6 linked regions of the Homo sapiens genome follow. The protein of the gene in region 5 purifies or fractionates together with the protein of the main gene of each other region. This does not show direct contact. Each region holds a gene or a part of one and is shown on either strand. Other genes may lie near its edges.

Region 1 (3,500 bases), on a different chromosome or scaffold from region 5:
AGAAATATAATAATAAACACCAGGCTTTATATATATATTCCCTTACCCCTTTTATCAAGTTCAGTGTACGTTTTGCTTATGTGACTCAGACATTAAACATTCATCTGTTAATGTTTCAGTAAAATATGAAACAAAATTAAGATTTGAAAGATATAAAGATTTCATGTCACATGCACATTTTTGAGAATTTAAGACAGACAGGGGAACTGTATTGGAAGCAAATTACCACAGTGATGAAGAACACAGTCTTCAGAATAACAGATCTTGGTTCAAACCCTGACCATATGACTAGTAAGCTCTGCGAACTTAGATACTTATGTATCCTCTCTGAGACCACCTAAATTACCCTCAATTTAGGTAATTACCTAAATTACCCTCTCTGAGACCACCTAAATTACCCATCTATGACACAGAGATAATACCACCTACCACAAGGTTGTTTTGAAGATTAAATTAAGTACTGCATGCAAAGAGCCTGACACAGTGCCTGGGACATAGTAAATACTCAACAGTGGTAGTTATCAAAGATGATTATTACTGAGGAATTCCTGACTTGGTGATACGACAGAAGACCTTCAATAAAGGGAAAAATATCTGCCTTGAAAAGATTAAGTTGGCCTATCACAATGTGGTATCTAATAGGACCTTTCTGTATAATTTCCTGCCTATTTTAGTACTGATGTCTATTACTCTAGTCGAAGCCCCATTTCCAAATTTATTATTGGAGCTAACATTCTCAGTCCACCATTGTCTTGATTTATAGAACAGGCTCCCATTCAGTCTGCCTGCTTTATGAATTTCTGTGATATTTTATCCTCCACAGAACCCACTATTTTCACTGAGTTGCCACACTGCTCAATACCTGGCAGAATGCCTTGTATGTGATTGGTCTTGGCAAGTAAAAATCTGCTAGTTGACTAACAGTAGCCCTAACAGTAGCCCTTCCTTATATCAAATACCCCACAAAAAAATCTTCCTTTTCCTGTCTCTAAACCAAACCACCTTCCTTATTTACTAATCTTCTGGTTTCATCTCCACCTACTTTCCAACATGGCATCTCTAACTCCGAATTTATCAATTCTAATTGTCAAATCATGACAGTTTGGTTCATATCATTTGTTTCTTCTGTCCTTTTCTTCCCACTCTGCATAATATCACAATTCTTCCATTCTCAAACATAATCACATACTTTAGCAAACTACTTTAAGAAAAAGTTTAAATTTAACTTCCAATTAGTCTTCCTTACTCCAATTACACTCATCACTCTATTATACCATGCTCCCATAATACACATATGCAGTTTACCTTGCATGTATTTATCCATTCCTTTTTAATAGTCCTTTAGTTTTCCAGTATATCCTTTATCTTCCAAATCAGACTGTAATTCCTTGAGGGAATACCTTAGCACCGCTCCTTCTGTGCCCCTCACGACACCTACCACACTGCTCCATAGATGTGGTATCCAATAAATGCTTAATTAATAATGGTTTATACGTGCAGACTATTTTTGTTTCAAATGCGAAACAAACTTGTTGCAAAAAACACAAAAAATAAGGCCAAGAAAAAAACACGGTATTGTAAATTAGAAAGTCCGAGTTAAGTGAAAAAAAGAAGTGCCTTATTAAAAATAACACAATGAACACTACAAAAAAAAATGAGGGACAATGATAGAATAACACTCAAATGTCAAGAAATAAAATGCCATATTTACTGTTATAGTAATTCTAATAAAATCTAGTGAAGAAACAAATTGATATCATTAATGTTACATGAATATTTTTGAGATCTAGGAAACCAAAGTGAGGAAAACACCCACTTTGTTCTATCCTAGATTTATCACTTAGGAAACACTTGGCAAGTCATTTAATCTCTCTGATTCACCACATATAAAATGGGGATCAGTCCATTTGCCTTACCTTTTATGAAACTGTTGTGAGATAAGGAAGCTAACATATATGAAAAGTAGTTTATAAACTCTAAAAGGTTAATCAAAGATAAGATACTAATCAGGCCGGGCACGGTGGCTTACACCTGTAATCCCAGCACTGTGGTAGGCCGAGGTGGGTGGATCACTTGAGGTCAAGAGTTCAAGACCAGCCTGACCAACATGGTGAAACCTAGTCTCTACTAAAATGCAAAAATTAGCTGGGCGTGGTGATGGGCACCTGTAATCTCAGCTACTTGGGAGGCTGAGGCCAGAGAATCACTTGAACCCAGGAGGCGGAGGTAGCAGTGAGCCAAGATCGTCCCATTGCACTCCAGCCTGGGCAACAAGAGCAAAACTCCGTCTAAAAAAAAAAAAAAAAAACTACTCAAAAATAAGATATTGTTAAACTGCCCACAGCTCAACAGTCAACTCAAAACCTGTATACCTAGGTTTTCTGCATTCACATGACAAAAGCCCATTGGCCATATAAGCACATAATAGCATCGCTATTAACAGCATTAAGAATGAAGAGTCATAATATGAAAGGTGATTTATATATTTTCTACAGAATTGTTCACACTCTTATTCACTTTTATTATCTTGAAAACCAACAAAACTAAAGTGTGTTACATGAGGGATCTAAGGGGACAATTTTCAGCAAAAGTTCCACACCTAATTTTTTGTTTTTCAGTAAAAGTTCCATGCCTAACTCTTAAAGCAAAAGTTCCATGCCTTTAATTTTAAGAAAGGATAATTAATTACACTTTACAGATAAGACAAAATATGGCAACTTCTCTTATTACAGACTATGATGATGACACTGTGAAAACTGAGCATAGCAAATGATCTAGTCAGTGGTTCTCTATTACATTCTGTGATGGGGGCCCTATAGAGTGAATGAAATACATTAACCAGTACTGGACAACCTGGAAGATATAAGTCAAAATACTTAATTAAAGGTATAAGCGAAGAGAAGAAATTATTCTTCGGAAATTTTTTCTACATCAATAAACTATCGTTTTACTGTTCTCAACATTATAATTTGGTGAGATTCCTAGCACTACGGAAAACACAAGCAATAAAAACACAACACTGTCCTCACTTTCCATTAAAAACAACCACAGTATTTTTGGAGTTCTGCCAAGGTTGAAGTTAATACCTAATGAGAAAATATAAAGACACCCAAAAGCTCCTAAAACTCCACTGACATCCTCAGAAAGCAAAATTCTGTTCATCTAAAAGGGTTATCTTTCCCCAAATTTAAAACTTTATACTGTGGTAAAAGACATTTTCTTAAAAAGATATTCAACCTTTCAGAGAAAACCTCAGAATCCAGTAATAGTTCAATTCTACTAATTTAAAAGTGTTTGAAAACTATAAAAACACATTTACCAATTACAAAACAATGTAGCTGCATTATAAGCCTTCAAATGAACCTTGGAGTTCTAAGATATTACAATGATTTTAACATACACAGGTGCTCCTCGACTTATGATGGGGTTACGTCCTGATAAACCCAATATAGTAAGACAAAGTGCATTTAATACCCCAATAAAACCATTACAAAGTTGAA
Region 2 (2,539 bases), about 120 Mb from region 5:
TTTACATCAACATTCTGGAGTAATTATGCTCACAATCTATCTGCTTTCATTACAATGAATGTTTAGGATCCTCTAGTTCTAGAAACTCAGTATCAATAGGGCCATCCTCAACCAGGGGAAAACACCAAAGTCAGTGTTCAAGTGTCCCCCAAAACTCTTCAGGTCTCCAGTTTCCCAGGGTCCTAGAAAACCCATCCCCCCTCAAAAGTTTAGCCAGAAAATATTTGCTTTTAAAATTAGGCACATAGGTGAGAAATGTATATATGATAATTTTTACCATGACAGAGGAGGCTGGGATATAGTTTCAGTTCCAGGAACACCATGACAGGGAGAATTGGCTCTTATCCACTGTATAGAACAGCAATTAATTTAAAAAATCAAGCTTTGTTAATGGTGCTCTTGAGACCACTGACAGCCTAATGTTACCGGTTTTCCCTCTGTTTTGGAAAACACAGATCTAAACACAGTCCAATTACACTTTCATTTTCATTACACTTCAGTCAATTAAGCTATACATTTATTTATACAATAGTTATACTCAAAAGTGTCTTCAGGATGATTATGAAAGTTGCATTAAAACTGTATCGTTAAAAGCAGCTACCATGAACTATTACATTACTACGAAGAATATCCTTTGATATTAAATATTTTTTTCCTTCTAAAAGACTGGTATTACCCTTTGCATTACTTTTTTGTGACAGATTTATTGAAATATATAGTTCACGTGCAATGAAATCTACCCTTTGAAAGTGTACAATGCATTGTTTGTAATATATTTACAGAGTTGTGCAACCATCACTGCCATCTAATCTTAGAACATTTTTATCACTCAAAAGGAAATCCTATACTCATTAGCAGTCACTCCCCATTCTTCCTCCCCAAGTCCCTGGCAACCACAAATTTGCTTTCTGTCTTTATGGATTTGCCTGTTTTGGAAATTTCATATAAATGAGTTCATACAGTATGTGGCCTTTTGTGTCTGGCTTCTTTTACTTGCCTTCAAGGTTCATCTATCTTGTAGCATGTATCAGTACTTTATTCCTTTTTATGACCAAATAATATTCCATTGCACAGATATACCACGTTTTGCTTATCCATTCACCCAGTTGATAGTTGATAGACTTTGGGTGTTTATACTTTTTGGCTGTTAAGAATAATGCTTCTATTGACATTGTGTACAGTTTTTATGTGGAAATGTTTTCAATTCCTCTGGGTATATACCTAGGAGTAGATTATGTAACACTTCAAGGATTAAGTTAGTGGCAGGGATGAGAATAAGTTAAATATTACATTCGTAGATTTGTTATACTACCAAGGCTAAAGGGACATTATAAGGGGAAAAATAGTTCCCAAATAACAATAAGAGATAAAAATCAGAATAATAGGTTATAGTCTAGAGAAATGTTTATCTTATTCTTGTTCCAGTTTAAGTAAATATTAAATATTGTATAATTACTGGGAGATATATTTTAAAGCAATGAGAAAATATTATTATAAATATGTTTTGATCTTTTAAGATATAAATTTTTAGGTTCCTTTAGAGTAGAAAATAATAGCATTTAACAAAGATTCTTTTGGCTTAGTGATTTATGATTTCAATAAATATCTCCTGCTCTGTGTACACAACCCAACTGTTATTAAAGATTCTAAACTACATTTTAACAATTCAAAGTCACGTAATATGAAGAGCATTATAGGGCTTAAAGTAGTTTTAGAACAGAAATACAGAAAGATACTTTGTAAAACTGGAGAATAAGTGGTTTCTTCTTGATATGGGAGGCCAGAATCTTGAACTTTCAACTGGCAAACAACTTGCTACTTTCATCTGAGGTCAAAAAAACTAAGGCAAAACTAATGCCATTTGAGAAAGTTATGTCGTTTCTCTATTCTTAATATAAAGACAGCACACTGAGAGTTAAAATAATCAGCTAGGACTTTAGTTTGAAAAAAAAGGTCAAGTTTTTTGAGTTTTTTTACTTTTAAATTCAAACATACAGTAAATTGCAGATGTGGAACACAAAATAACATTCCCTACATGGTGAACATTTCTCTTCTACAGCCTAGTTGAATCTATTTTCAGTACCCATTTGGAACCAATCTTCCCAAGTTTTGAAGGATAAAAGTAGTAAGTGAAATTGCAAAGCTCACATCTAAGGTACTAGAAAAAAAACGCCATTATGTAATGGCTGCATTTTTTAAAGCCTGGTTCTGCTTACAGAATTACTTCAGTAACAATGAAAAGAGGCATGTTTTCATGTACTTTGCCTGGTTATACTTGCAGAGTACTCCATAATCTTTGGAAAAAAATTTAAAAAGACCAAAGTTTTATGCAACCTATGGCTTTTACTTTTTATTACCAATATACAAAGTACATAAAAAATATCCATTTTTACTCTACCTTCTCTGTCTTCCTATTTCCAGATGCTTTAAGTAGGAAAGAAAAGGCAAGGCAACAAAAAATTCCATCTATTATACTGAAGGCTGACGTTTCAATGTCTCATTTGTAAAGAGTCAGTAGTAAAAGTCATTAACTATCAAA
Region 3 (3,500 bases), on a different chromosome or scaffold from region 5:
TAAATGTATAACTGAAAGAGTCCATTTTAAGAAAATTATAATAAAATCATTTTTTAAAAGAAATTCTATATAGCAGTGGAAGTGAATAATGTAGATCTGCAGCAAAATATCAAGCAAAAAAGTCTAATATGGAAAGACAGAAAAAGGGATGGAAGGGGAGACTGAAATCTTGACTGGGGAACAGGAGTTGGAACCCAACTCACAGTTCCCACCTCTCCACTCCTATGTGGCACCTCACAAGAGGGATCACAGTTGAAATCACTGATCTAGTCCAACCCTCTCATTTTCAAGGTCTAGAGACCTTAAGGGATTGCCCGAGGTCACAATTAGCTAGTGACACACAGTGGAGATCAGCACACAGCTTTCTATTCTCCCTGTTCAACATGATATTTTTTCCATTTGTCAGAATAACAGCAAGAAAAGTAGACACATCTGACATTATCAACTTTTTTCTTTTTTTAATTAAAGATGGAGTCTTAGAGTCTTGCTATGTTGCCCAGGCTGGTCTCAAACTCCTGGACTCAAGCTATCCGCCTGCCTCAGCCTCCCAAAGTGCTAGGATTACAGGCGTGAGCAACCACATCCCGCCTCAACTTATTTTTAAATCAAATAGGTACTGGGGAAAAGAATATAAAACAGAGTAATTTCTAGCCAGATTTTAGAATTAAGAAAAAAAAAAAAAGGAGGTACACACAGCAATATATATGTTGTCAAGTATACATACTACCTATACATTCTTCTAATATGAACACATTTTTACTTTATTTACAAATGAAAAAAGCCAATTTACTTCTTCCACTGTAATTATGAAAATGCAATATGTGCAAAATGAGAAAAACATCTCAGTCCCAACTTGTTGAAAAATGTACCAAGGCCCCTTTTGAGGCCACATTATCTCCTTTCTCTAGTACTAGCAGCTATTTGCTGGGTAGTGGCATTTCAATCAAGAGAGTCACAGAAAAAGAGACAAGCCTACTAGATCTCAAATAACTGATTTTCAAAAGCTGCTGCAGATCTCTTAGGTAGGAGTAAAAGGAGTATGAGCTAAATTTCTGGGGTTAAATAAGATGGCACAGGGCTAAATACATAAGAGCTAAATTTCTGGGGTTAAATAAGATGGCACAGGGCTAAATTTCTGGGGTTAAATAAGATGGCACAGGGCTAAATAAATAAGATGGCACAGGGCTAAATACACAGAGCTCTCGAGTTCTGTGATTTCAGATCTGCCACTTACCACTTTGCCTTGAAAAATAAGTTAAAACTTTTATTTCATTGCTGTAAAGTAGGGAAAAAGCTAACTACCTTGTAGCATCATCTAGGGCATTAGAGTTCATATGTAACAGCACAGTGCCTGGCTCACATTAGGTACACAATAAATGATAACTGCTTGCCAGTCCTACCTATCAACTGTTTGAACAAAGACTTAGATATGCAATTCAAATGCACACTGATAAATTACAAAGAGCAACTGATTTTAAACAAACGTGATTCAAAACCAACAATATTGGTGAAAGCTATTTTTAAGAAGTACCTGCTGACACCAGAAGACCTCCAGAGGGGAAAAGTAGGACACTCTCCACTGGCTGCCCATGCTCAACGGAGAGAACACTCTCACTCGTTCGTGCATCAAACATCTTCACAGTATGATCATATGATCCTAAAATGTCAATTTTTGAATTTTTAGTTTGACTGTTTAAAACAACAAAAACTGTGTGTATCCAGATATAAATTTTAAAAGGAAAAAAAGCTTAGATGGAGTTTTAAAAAGACATATATGTATATTCATGAAGACACAGGACCTCCAAACCATCTACTACTGATCGTGTCTGAAGAAGCACTACATAATACTATACAGAATCTAACTTGCTCTGATCTTAAAATATTTCTTTCTTTGGACTACTGTCACTACTGAATCATCTGGAAATCTTTGTAAAGGCACCCACAAAGGCTAAACTGCACTCTTTGTTTCTTGGCTGCTTGAGGCAGGGTACTATACATTACAGTTCTGAGAGTCTATTATGTTTTCAAGACAGCCTGATTTTTCCAAACACATTTGGAAGACATGAACAATCAACAAAAGAAGAATAAGAAAATAAAAAACAATTGGAAGCCAGGCATGGTGGCTCACACTTGTAATCCCAGTCCTCCGGGAGGAAATTGAGGTAGGTGGATCACTTGAGCCCAGGAGTTCGAGACCAGCCTGGGCAACATGGCAAAACCGTCTCTACAAAAAAATACACAAAGTAGCTGGACGTGGTGGTGGGCACCTGTAGTCCCAGCTACTTGGGAGGCTTATGTGGGAGGATCACTTGAGCCCAGGAGGTAGCAGATGCAGTGAGCTATGGTCACATCACTGCACTCCAGCCTGGGCAACAGAGTGAGACCCTGTCTGAAAATAAATGCAAACATACATACATAAAAATTAATTTAAAAACTGAAGAATTAATCAGAAACATATTCCTTTATAAAAAAAATTTAAACCCCTCCATCCCAAAAGAGTCCCATAGCAACATTAAAGTACATCCCCGTGAGATTATTTGCTTCAGGAGGGAATAGAGTTCACCAACCTGTTATAAAGAGATCCGGATTAAGTTTGCTAGCACATCCACACCTCACATAATCAGAGTGTTCTTTAAATGTCAAAATTTCTTTGGAGTTTGGAATATCCCATAATTTAACTGTATAATCATCAGCCCCAGAGACCACGTGATATTTGTCAGCTGTAAAATCTACTGTATGAACTGCTCTGAAAGATTGAAGGTCAGTATATTAAAAAGCAAGAAAATTATTTTTCTGATACCTTCTAACATAAAATGCTCCTTTTTCTCAGATTAAAAAAAAAGCAGCTGAGTTTCAGGGAGTCTTCATAGGGGGAAATCATGAAAGAAAGAGAAAACTTACAAGTGTTTGCCCCCAAACCAATTAAGAAGTGTAAATACTCCTATATTGTAAAGTTAAAAAAAATTAAAGGATAGCCTTAAAATTATATTTTCTAGTATATAAACAATTCCACTTAGCTGCTGAATATGGAAGCAAAGGCACTTTAATTTTTAAAATTTCAAAAAGTTCTTTAAAAAACTCTAAAGAGATTTACCACTAAATAGAATCATGTTACATAAATTTCTGTTAAATTTTAACAAATTTCAGCACGGACATTGGCAATCCTGAAAACAAAGTTATAATATAAAATTGTGATGGCCACTTAATTTATTAAGGGGCAAAACACTATAAATTCAAGAAGAAAATCCACCTTCCTACTTGACTTCAACATAAGAGCCTCTAAGACAGTACAGGCCTATAGAGCTGTCATTACCAGCTGTAAGGTTGTCTTCAGGTCAGTAATTCATAATCTCAGCTGGGCCACAGACCCCACTAAAGTTAACCAAAAGCTACAGAGTAGCTCCCTAGATAAACGTGTATTTCCTAAAATATCACATACAATTCTAGGGAATTCATAAGCCCCATGAAACTGGACCACGGAACCCAAGTTAAGCACTCTT
Region 4 (3,500 bases), on a different chromosome or scaffold from region 5:
TTCCTCAAAAATTTTAAAATAAGTATAGTAAAAACTAGATAATATACATTCTTGATTTAATGGAAATATTTATATGCAGTGAAACATAAAACAAATTATTGGTTGTATTGCTATATTTAAACAATTTTCTTAACTAAAATATAATTAAGAATCCCAAAATTGTCCTAGACAACTATTTTAGAATCAAAAAGTACATGATCACAAGTACTTAAAACTATAATAAAATTAATATTTATCTGTACATCCATAATAAAAGTTACTATTTTAGTTTGCTAACAAGAATGATTTTTAACAAGGGTGATCTGGTTTAAATAGCTGATTTCCTATGTTTCCATTATTATTTTAAATATATATTGACATTTATGTTTAAGGAAACAACAGAGCTGAACCAGTGAAGCACATTTCATGATAAGCACTAAAGAGAAAATATGAGATCACTAAAATCCCCAAATTACTTCATAAGGGAAACAGTCTGAGGGATATTATTAAAAATCAATTTAAGTACATATTGGATTTGTGAAAGGCTTATATAAGCGTAAGTTGAATTTACTTTAAAAAAAAATACAAAAACAAACATTCTATAATTCTCCCCAAGAGACTTATTCAAATACGAGTTTAAGTAATAGCTGCAGAGCCTGGGGTGAGAAAGCTGGGCATGGTAGTGCATGCACCTGCAGTCCCAGCCCTTTGGGAGGCAGAGGTGGGAGGATCACTTGAGCCCAGGAGTTTGAGGCTGCAGTGAGCTGTGATTGCAATATTGTACTCTAGTCTGGGCAACAGAATGAGATCCTGTCTTAAAAAAAACATTTTTTTTTTTAGATGGAAAAGTTTGCAGAAAGAGGCACTAATCAATCATCAAACGTAATTTTTTTCCCCTGAAACACAGCAATATTAGATTGCTGTTCTTTTCGCCTTCTGCTTGCTTCCCATGAAGGATGAAGAGGCAGCTGCAATTGCTGTTTTGTATTTTCAAGTCTTCCTGATAGCTTCTTATTAAACTGATTCTTGATCTGAGGCTCATTCTGTGGAAAATCTAGGAAGAGAAAGCAAAAATAATAATAACTATATACTTAAAGAGCATATAGGAGAAGTAAATTTCATCTTTTTCAAACCAATGTTAAAAAAAGAAATTTTGTTTTCTTAAATGGAATATTTCACAATTTAAAACTGAAGTCTAACAGGGAATAGTTTGAAGTTGAAAATTTATATACAAGTAGTCAATTTTGACACACATGCTTTCTAACACTTATAAGTAGATGTTTATTGAGTGCCTCTTAATTTATGCTGTGCTGTCTTATTTATAACAACATAAAGAAAGGAATCACTCTGTTGTACTAGCATGGAAGGCAAAAAAGAAGGGCATCATGTATTTTCAAAGGAACATCATTAGCTTATGATATCTGTGTACATGAAGCAGATGTAGCCAGAAAATTCACATCTTAGCTAAGACACTCCACTGAGTCTGACAATACTGATAGTGCTTACTCATTTTTAAAGGCTATAAGTTGATTCCACTCCCGTCTGTTATTGAACCAAAAGTGGTTATTACAAGGCAAATAGTACTAAGTCTACTCAAGAATATAAGACAAAGTTCTTTTTTAGTTGTAACATTAATCTCCAGATATGAAGGTGGCAACTTGTATTCTAGTCCATATAGTATCTTAACATTTTACATGATTTTGAACCAAGTCTTATTTGGCGAAGATACACTAGTATGAAAAGATATGCATCAATGCACATTTTAGTTGCTTACAGAACTTAGGAGATGGAATCAGAAAGAAAAAGAGAGACAAAAAAACTTAATATAGACTTCTTAATCAGTCCTATGACTATGTAATTTCTCCATTGCAAGTTAGGAATCATTGTCAAAAGACTTCTTTTTTTTAAGACGGAGTCTTGCTCTGTTGCCCAGGATGGAGAGCAGTGGCGTGATCTTGGCTCACTGCAACCTCCACCTCCCAGGTTCAAGCAATTCTCCTGCCTCAGCCTCCTAAGTAGCTGGGATTACAGGCATGTGCCACTATGCCTGGCTAATTTATGTATTTTTAGTAGAGACATATTGGTCAGGCTGATCTCGAACTCCTGACCTCAGACGATCCACCCACCTCAGCCTCCCAAAGTGCTGGGATTACAGGCATGAGCCACCGTGCTCGGCCTGTCAGAAGCCTTTTAAAGACCTCTTTAAGAAAACAAATGTAAAAATGTTATATAAACCAGTGCACTGTTTGGGATAATATTTACAAAACATTATCTAGACAGAAATCAAAACAACCCTTATCTTACACAAATCACATGTGCTCTAGAAATCTGTTACAATATTCAAAGAGTGGCTGTAGAGATGAAAAGTTTAAAAAAAACTGTAGAGGATGTGGAGAAATAGGAACACTTTTACACTGTTGGTGGGACTGTAAACTAGTTCAACCATTGTGGAAGTCAGTGTGGCGATTCCTCAGGGATCTAGAACTAGAAATACCATTTGACCCAGCCATCCTATTATTGGGTATATACCCAAAGGATTATAAATCATGCTACTATAAAGACACATGCACACGTATGTTTATTGCGGCACTATTCACAATAGCAAAGACTTGGAACCAACCCAAATGTCCAACAATGATAGACTGGATTAAGAAAATGTGGCACATATACACCATGGAATACTATGCAGCCATAAAAACTGATGAGTTCATGTCCTTTGTAGGGACATGGATGAAACTGGAAACCATCATTCTCAGCAAACCATCGCAAGGACAAAAAACCAAACACCGCATGTCCTCACTCATAGGTGGGAATTGAACAATGAGAACACATGGACACAGGAAGGGGAACATCACACACCGGGGACTGTTGTGGGGTGGGGGGAGTGGGGAGGGATAGCATTAGGAGATATACCTAATGGTAAATGACGAGTTAATGGGTGCAGCACACCAACATGGCACATGTATACATATGTAACAAATCTGCACGTTGTGCACATGTACTCTAAAACTTAAAGTGTAATAATAATAAAAATAAAAAAAACAAAACAAAACAAAACAAAAACCTGTTTCATAAAAACTGAGATTTGAATAAGGTAGTATTTCTAAATGAATGTATTATTTTATATATTACATAGAGTTGTATATGTAAATAAACTAGTAAATATTTTAAGCATACAAGCTAAGCACAAAAAACCCTTTATTTGGATAGTCTCATTGTGAAAATGTAGGTATGTCTTATATTTACAGTTATCCTGTGTTTGTGAATATATGGTATAAATGGGGCATACTGACATGTTTCTGCCAAATCCTGTATTATCTTCCTTTTAGGCATACAATCAGAATATAGTTTCCATTCCTGCTGCAGTTAGGTGAGGTCACATGGCTAATTGAGTTATGGCCAATAAAATGTGAGTAAAAGGCCTGGACCATAAAAACCTCACATTCAATCTTCCATTACTTTTCTATCGCTGATGAATGAAGAGAACTCCTAGGATCCAGAGGAGGCAAGAGGCACAAGAC
Region 5 (3,500 bases):
TAAAATGCCACTAAGTTCACATTTGTTAGGACTGTGATAGACTACATTTGAATTTAAGCTGTCAGGGATAATGTAGATTAGTAAGTATTAAAAATGAGCAGAAAACATTATTCAAATTGTTACGAGGATGGGGAATATGGAGGGCATCAGAAAGTCACACACACTGAAAACAGTAGAAAAAGGTAAGGATAATGGAAGCTGACGTACCAACAATTAAGCAGTTAATAAATAATGTCTATTACAGGCCCAGTATTCCAAATTTTGGTGGCATCATATGTCACGTAAAAAACTGACTATTCCAAGTACAGACCTGATGATATGATCCCTAAGTCCTAAAATGCCAAAGTTTAATGTCAACTCCTTATGCGCTTTGCCAGATCACTTTAGAGTAAAAAATATCTTACATGCACAGCTCAGCAGATTCCAACAGCAAAGAATGCCATTTTCAGTAGCACCAAGTAGATACTTTGAACACGTCAATCTCCCAAAGCAAAGGTGCCTAGATTAAAACCACAAGGAAGTTAGCAACAGTCAGTTCTAGCAAATTCAGTTACAAAGAACTGCAGGCTTCCAGCGGCTGTTCTATGTAATGCAGATTTTTATATAGACATATATATTTTTGTTTATAATTATCCTGAAGAAAAAAGTGTCTAAGGAGTACAAAAGGAAGGGTCTAGTTAGCTATTTCTTTAGGAAAACAGAACGGATGACCAATTCTTTAACACACTGTGCGGTATACCAATTTACATCTAACAGAGAAAATGTACATGAAACGTACAGTCATCTGACAAAAATCCTATTTACCAAGAAGAAGAAAACTTGCGATTTCAATTGTGAAGAAAGTTTTACAAAGTAAATTCAGAATCAGACATGCTGGGAATTAGAGACGATCTCATTAGGCATCTGATTCTGTCCTCAGGCCCAACTACCTGAAGCAGGACCTGAAAATGCTGCTGCTACTTTCCCCTGCACCTCTCGGAAACAATGAGGTTGGCGCATAACACGGTTTTTATGGGAATACACAGAAAATAAGAAGGTTTGGATCCCCTGAGGCTTATGTATAGCTTCTGTTACCATTCAGCACATCCATGAAAGTATTCCAAAGAAAAAATATGTAGGCCAAGAGTTAAATGTTAACCTGAATTTCAGAAATGTTGGCACAGTTTGTGGACTCAGAATTTTTGGCTTTCCAGCATTTTGATTAGCTGCTTGCCCCACTGACCTTCAGGCTACTTTTGGAGAGGGCATAAATGACTACTAAAGTTTTAAGACTTGTTTAAATAAGTTAAAAAATAGTACTACATACTTCCCGAAGATTTACCTACCTTATTTTCCCAGCTCGTTGGCAAAATGTACATTTAAGTTCCCATGTTACAGAATCCCATATTGTGACTATTTCCTCAAAACTAACTGCTAGTAAAGAACCATCTTCGGAGAAACAACAGTTAGTTGCTTGATACTTGTGATAACTACCAACAAAGTCACAGGTCCAGCCAACAGCTTTTTCTGTGGAAATATAAGCCATAATGTTCAGAAATTGTGTAAATGCTAGAGAATGCTACAGTAGTTCCCCCTAGTTTCCCATTATCTGAGGGTTCACTTTCTGTGGTTTCAGTTCCTAGGGGTCAACTGAGGTCTGAAAATAGCTGTGTACAGTACAAAAAGATATTTTGAAAGAGAGAGAAAGGCAGACACAGAGCATGCACATATTCACTTTTTATTACAGTATATTATTGTAATCATTCTATTATTAGTTATTAACCTCTTACTGTGCCTAATTTATAAATTAAACTTTATCTCAGGTATGTATGTATAGGAAAAAAACAGTATATACAGGGTTCGGTACTATCTGCAGTTTCAGGCATCAACTGGGGCGGGGGGGTCTTGGATTGTATCCCCCACTGTTAAAGGGAGACTGCTAAATGAGGGACATTATAAGCAGTAGGGATTAAGAAACAAAGATGCACACACAAATAACAAATAAAATAAAAAAGAAACAAAGACACAAAACAAGAAAACCTGTTCCCCACAACTTCTTTAAGTCAGAACTGCTACAAAATACTGACTGTTCTGAAATTTATGCCCTCTCCTGGAGACCTTGACCTCCCTCTAGTGGAGGAGTGAAAGGACTCTTGGTAAAAGCCCCTTTTACTTTACCCTAAAAAAACAGAATAATCAGCACATGATTAATCAAGAATGCCATTTAAAAAGAACAGATTTGAGGAAAAAGGCATGTAAAATGTAATCTCTTAAATCTATTAAGATTAAGCAATATCCTGTAGAATTCAATAAAGTAGAAAATGTCCTCCCAGGATGGATACAAGTCATGAGAAAAAGAAATTAATTCCTAAAATTGTGCACACTTTAAACATAACATATTTAATAACTTACTGTATATGTCAGAGTCATCTGTTAATATCCATACTTTGAAGTAACCATCTTTGCTAGCTGTAACCAAGGTGGGCTGTTCAGATTTTTCTGCATTACAGAAACAGAGAGCTGTAATGCAGTCTTCGTGTGGCATGTTAATTTTAGTGTTAAGAATAAACCTAGCGGGAAGGAAACCACAAATTTATTCTTGCATGAGGACAAAGTGATGTATATAAGAATTTCTGACATGCTGTACATTTTACAATAGCATCTTGAACAACAGGCAACTGATAATCACGTAGAATGACAAACAATTGAGTGCTCTACCTCTAATGGCCACAGGACGCAAAGAGTTCTAATATATCACCTTTGCCCTTGTGTGACTTTAGAGAACATTCTGTGTAGTAGTCAACCCACTAGTACATTGGTACAAAATGAGGATAATACAGGTCACCAATCAATGATACTCAAAAGCCTACTGTATCAAACTCTGTAGGAAACTTGTATAGAACCCAGATTCCTGCCTACTTTTGAAAATAAAAAATGGAAAGGCCGTGAAACGCCCCACCTGGGGCAAGGAAAAATAGACAGGAAACTACTTAGTCAAACTGGCTGGTCATTATTTACTATTTTTAGTCACCTAAATGACTTCTTAAAGCTTATTTCGAGCTTAGAGGGCAACGCTGTGAATGAAAGACAACTAGGACTGTGTTCTTAAAAGAACATCAAGGCAGCATAGGATTGTGATTTTAAAAAAGCACAAGTTATAACAACAGTGACTAGGGACAACCACTTAATCTCTCTGGGCCTGTTTCTTCACCTATAAAATATAGACAACAGGCTTATCTTACAGTGTTCTTTTGAAGAGTAAGATAATGGGTACAAAGCTCTAAGCCAAGTTCTTGGCACACAGCAAAGATCTGTTAAGTGGTTATTATAGCCACAGTACGAGAGTGGATTCCTTATCTAATCACAACATCCATGCTACATTATACTATGCTACACTTCTACCTACACTCCCTCTTTTCAAAAGGCAGTATGCTGTTAACGGAAGAGCAAGGGAACATTTGGATTCTAACCCTGGATTTGCCTAGAATTCGGTATTATGCCCTTGAGGAGGTGTCACTTTT
Region 6 (3,500 bases), on a different chromosome or scaffold from region 5:
CCCTTTTTTTTTTTTTTTGAGACAGGGTCTTGCTCTGTTGCCCAGTTTGGAGTGCAGTGGTGCAATCACAGCTCACTGCAGCCTTGACCTCCCAGGCACAAGCCATCTGCCTACCTCAGGCAACTGAGTAGCTGGGACTACAGGCACGCACCATCACGCCCAGCTAATTTTTGTATTTTTTGTAGAGGCAGGATCTCATCACGTTGTCCAAGCTGGTCTTGAACTCTTGGCCTCAAGTGATCCTCCTGCCTTAGCCTCCCAAAGTGCTGAGACTATAGGTGTAAGCCACCTCGCCTGGCCTTTATCGATTTTTTTTTTTTTTGAGATGGAGTCTCGCTGTGTCACCAGGCTGGAGTGCAGTGGCACAATCTCGGCTCACTGCAACCTCCAACTCCCTGGTTCAAGCAATTCTCCAGCCTCAGCCTCCCAAGTAGCTGGGATTACAGGCACATGCCACCACGCCCAGCTAATTTTTGTATTTTTAGTAGAGACGGGGTTTCACCATGTTGCCCAGGATGGTCTTGATCTCCTGACCTCATGATCTGCCTGCTTCGGCCTCCCAAAGTGCTGGGATTACAGGCGTGAGATACCGCGCCTGCCCTCTGCTATTTTTTTTTAAGTTATAATTTTCCAAACTACATAAACCATATAGAGAAAGCATGAACAGTTGGTCATGACAAAACATAACAATGCTACTTTTAATACCTGGAGAAGATATGGATGCCAGTTGGTGTTTACACTGTGTCTTCTGAGAAGAAAGCATTGCACAGCCCACATAAAGAGCTTGAGTCTGCAGCACTGTTTTCACACTGCAGTTTAGTGGATTTGAAAGGCTAGAACCATAGGTCCATAAAACAGAACAGAACTTGAATAACTGAAAAACATCTTCTAGATGCACCTAATTAAAAAAAAAAAAAAGCAAACTTTTAATTCTTACTCAAATAAGCTGGTTCCAAATCCTCTTCTCACTAGTGTACAATTATAAAGAAACAAATAATTTAAGGCAAAGTTTTGCTTTGTCTAATCATTTCAAATTATTCCATATTCCATGTTTTAATGAACTGGGAAGATGTCAATGAAGAGTGATATTCAGAAGCCTCACTATAACCTTGCACTTGAAAACACAGAACCAAGACAAGAGCAGTATCTGGGACGCCTAATTAAGAAAATACTTCAACAATGTGCTGAGCAATGCCAACTCCATGTCAAATGCTGTAGAGAGAACAAGTCAGGCAAGAACAGGAACTGACCACTGGGCCTGGCAACATGGAGGTCACTGGTGCTGGGGATGAAATTTCCTGAGTAACTTCACGTGTGCTAAATAACCTCTCTGAACACCAGTATTCACATTTTTAAATGGTATTAACCAATCAAAAAGACTGGGCTGTTGTTATTTTTAAATATAGTAATGGGCCTAACATATTAGTAGGAGTGTAGCAATGTTAGTTTCTATTCAACCTACCGATTAGTATTGTGATTGTACTCTTTTACAGGGCCCGTGCTATTATATACTCTTCACTGTTTACAAGTCTACTTTTGTTTACATTATAAACTGTCATAACCCAAATAACCCACAGTATCTTTTTATTTATTTATTATTTTTTTTGAGATGGAGTCTCGCTCTGTCGCCCAGGCTGGAGTGCAGTGGAGCGATCTCCGCTCACTGCAAGCTCCACCTCCCAGGTTCATGCCATTCTCCTGCCTCAGCCTCCCGAGTAGCTGGGACTTCAGGAGCCCGCCACCACACCCGGCTAATTTTTTTTGTATTTTTCGTAGAGACGGCGTTTCACCATGTTAGCCAGGATGGTCTCGATCTCCTGACCTCGTGATCCACCCACCTTGGCCTCCCAAAGTGCTCGGATTATAGGCGTGAGCTACTGCGCCCAGCCCATCTTTTTTTTTTGAGACAGAGTCTCACTCTTGTCACCCAGGCTGGAGTACGGTGGTGTGATCTCGGCTCACTGCAACCTCTGCCTCCCGGGTTCAAGCGAATTCTCCTGCCTCTGCCTCCCAAGTGGCTGGGATTACAGGCCCCATCACCATGCCTGGCTAATTTTTGTATTTTTAGTAGAAATGGAGTTTCACTATGTTGGCCAGGCTGGTATTGAACTCCTGACCTCAAGTGATCCGCCTGCCTCGGCCTCCCAAAGTGCTGGGATTGCAGGCCAGCCATATCTTCTTTAAGGGTAGAGTACGCCTGAAAAGGAGGAGGCTTGTACCTTTATGAAAAGTTTCATCAGAACTCTGAAATGAACAGCATCGGCACCATTGAGCATCATCTCAAACAGCCCAATGAGCAAGTGCAGATAGTCCCTGCTGTCTTCTTTCAGTTGTTCAGGATTCCACCATATATCACCTACAAGGACATGGAAAGAGAAATGATGCTAGATCCTACATGAACATGCTGGGAGCTTTTTATTCAAGACAGTCATTGTGGAGTCAATCATTCAGTTTTGCAGAGTATCACATTTAAAAGATTCACAGCTTGTATCTTACCTTTAGGAAAAGATTTAGGAGCTTTCAGTGCATAAATAAATTTTTTCAAGGAAAATACAAGAAAAACCGAGTCCTCCACGGCCACCCTCTGAGTGCTGTTGAGCTCTTCTACATAATGTGCCCACAGCTCCACTGGGATCCCTCTGTCTAACATCAGTTCAATGTGCCATTCTGAGGGGATTTCCTGAAATGTTAAAGGAAACAAAAACTAGTACAAACTAAGGGTTCTGAACATGGGTTATATGAATTCCTCTGCATAATATGCAAAAGTTTTGTTTATGTGTGCATTTTGGTGGGGAAAGGATTAACAGAACTGCTTTGGTCGGATTTTTAAAGAGGTTTATCACTATTCACAAGGAAAGACAAAGTTAAATTTTATCTATGTCTTACCTTGAAACATTATCTCTAAAAACAAACTTTATTCATATGAACTGTTTATCCAATAAAGGGTAGGAATAAATAGGCATATTTCTTTTTTTTTTTTTTTTTTTTGAGACGGAGTCTTGCTCTGTCACCCAGGCTGGAGTGCAGCGGCACAATCTCAGCTCACTGCAACCTCCGCTTCCCAGGTTCAAGCAATTCTACTGCTTCAGCCTCCCGAGTAGGAAGGATTACAGGTGCCCGCCATCATGCCTGGCTAATTTTTGTATCTTTAGTAGAGATTAGGTTTCACCATTTTGGCCAGGTTGGTCTCGAACTCCTGTCCTCAGATGATCCACCCGCCTCGGCCTCCCAAAATGCTGGGATTATAGGCGTGAGCTACCGTGCCTGGCCAAAATAGGTATATTTCAAAACAGGAAGATAAACAGTTGGATTGCCAAGACATAGTTAAAGGGAATTCTTTGATTTCACTGTTTTACCACTAATCTGAATAAGGTACATGGCAAAAATCTCCAAACCTGCAGATGATTTTAAACAAGCAGCAAAATGTTAGGTGTTTAGAAATTATACTGTAAGTGCCAAAAGAATGCAGAACAGGTGTAAGAAAATGACAAATATGACTC

The links.
Region 1: the proteins of WDR75 (region 5) and CHM purify together in Homo sapiens (co-immunoprecipitation; one large-scale study listed by IntAct). This does not show direct contact.
Region 2: the proteins of WDR75 (region 5) and APLF purify together in Homo sapiens (co-immunoprecipitation; one large-scale study listed by IntAct). This does not show direct contact.
Region 3: the proteins of WDR75 (region 5) and UTP15 purify together in Homo sapiens (affinity purification with mass spectrometry; one large-scale study listed by BioGRID and IntAct). This does not show direct contact.
Region 4: the proteins of WDR75 (region 5) and SRFBP1 purify together in Homo sapiens (co-immunoprecipitation; one large-scale study listed by IntAct). This does not show direct contact.
Region 6: the proteins of WDR75 (region 5) and HEATR1 purify together in Homo sapiens (affinity purification with mass spectrometry; one large-scale study listed by BioGRID and IntAct). This does not show direct contact.

Annotation. Positions count from the first base shown.
Region 1 is NC_000023.11:85,964,059-85,967,558, forward strand, and holds part of CHM (rab proteins geranylgeranyltransferase component A 1), read right to left. Parts: intron 1-3,500. UniProt on the Homo sapiens protein: Substrate-binding subunit of the Rab geranylgeranyltransferase (GGTase) complex.
Region 2 is NC_000002.12:68,578,124-68,580,662, reverse strand, and holds the end of APLF (aprataxin and PNK-like factor), read right to left. Parts: 3' UTR 501-2,539; downstream 1-500. UniProt on the Homo sapiens protein: Histone chaperone involved in single-strand and double-strand DNA break repair.
Region 3 is NC_000005.10:73,568,743-73,572,242, reverse strand, and holds part of UTP15 (U3 small nucleolar RNA-associated protein 15 homolog), read right to left. Parts: intron 2,747-3,500; coding exon 2,568-2,746; intron 1,658-2,567; coding exon 1,532-1,657; intron 1-1,531. UniProt on the Homo sapiens protein: Ribosome biogenesis factor. Involved in nucleolar processing of pre-18S ribosomal RNA. Required for optimal pre-ribosomal RNA transcription by RNA polymerase I.
Region 4 is NC_000005.10:122,024,475-122,027,974, reverse strand, and holds part of SRFBP1 (serum response factor-binding protein 1), read right to left. Parts: intron 1,034-3,500; coding exon 849-1,033; 3' UTR 1-848. UniProt on the Homo sapiens protein: May be involved in regulating transcriptional activation of cardiac genes during the aging process. May play a role in biosynthesis and/or processing of SLC2A4 in adipose cells.
Region 5 is NC_000002.12:189,465,474-189,468,973, reverse strand, and holds part of WDR75 (WD repeat-containing protein 75), read right to left. Parts: intron 2,550-3,500; coding exon 2,392-2,549; intron 1,507-2,391; coding exon 1,326-1,506; intron 500-1,325; coding exon 405-499; intron 1-404. UniProt on the Homo sapiens protein: Ribosome biogenesis factor. Part of the small subunit (SSU) processome, first precursor of the small eukaryotic ribosomal subunit.
Region 6 is NC_000001.11:236,580,517-236,584,016, forward strand, and holds part of HEATR1 (HEAT repeat-containing protein 1), read right to left. Parts: intron 2,681-3,500; coding exon 2,497-2,680; intron 2,357-2,496; coding exon 2,220-2,356; intron 899-2,219; coding exon 706-898; intron 1-705. UniProt on the Homo sapiens protein: Ribosome biogenesis factor; required for recruitment of Myc to nucleoli. Involved in nucleolar processing of pre-18S ribosomal RNA. Required for optimal pre-ribosomal RNA transcription by RNA polymerase I.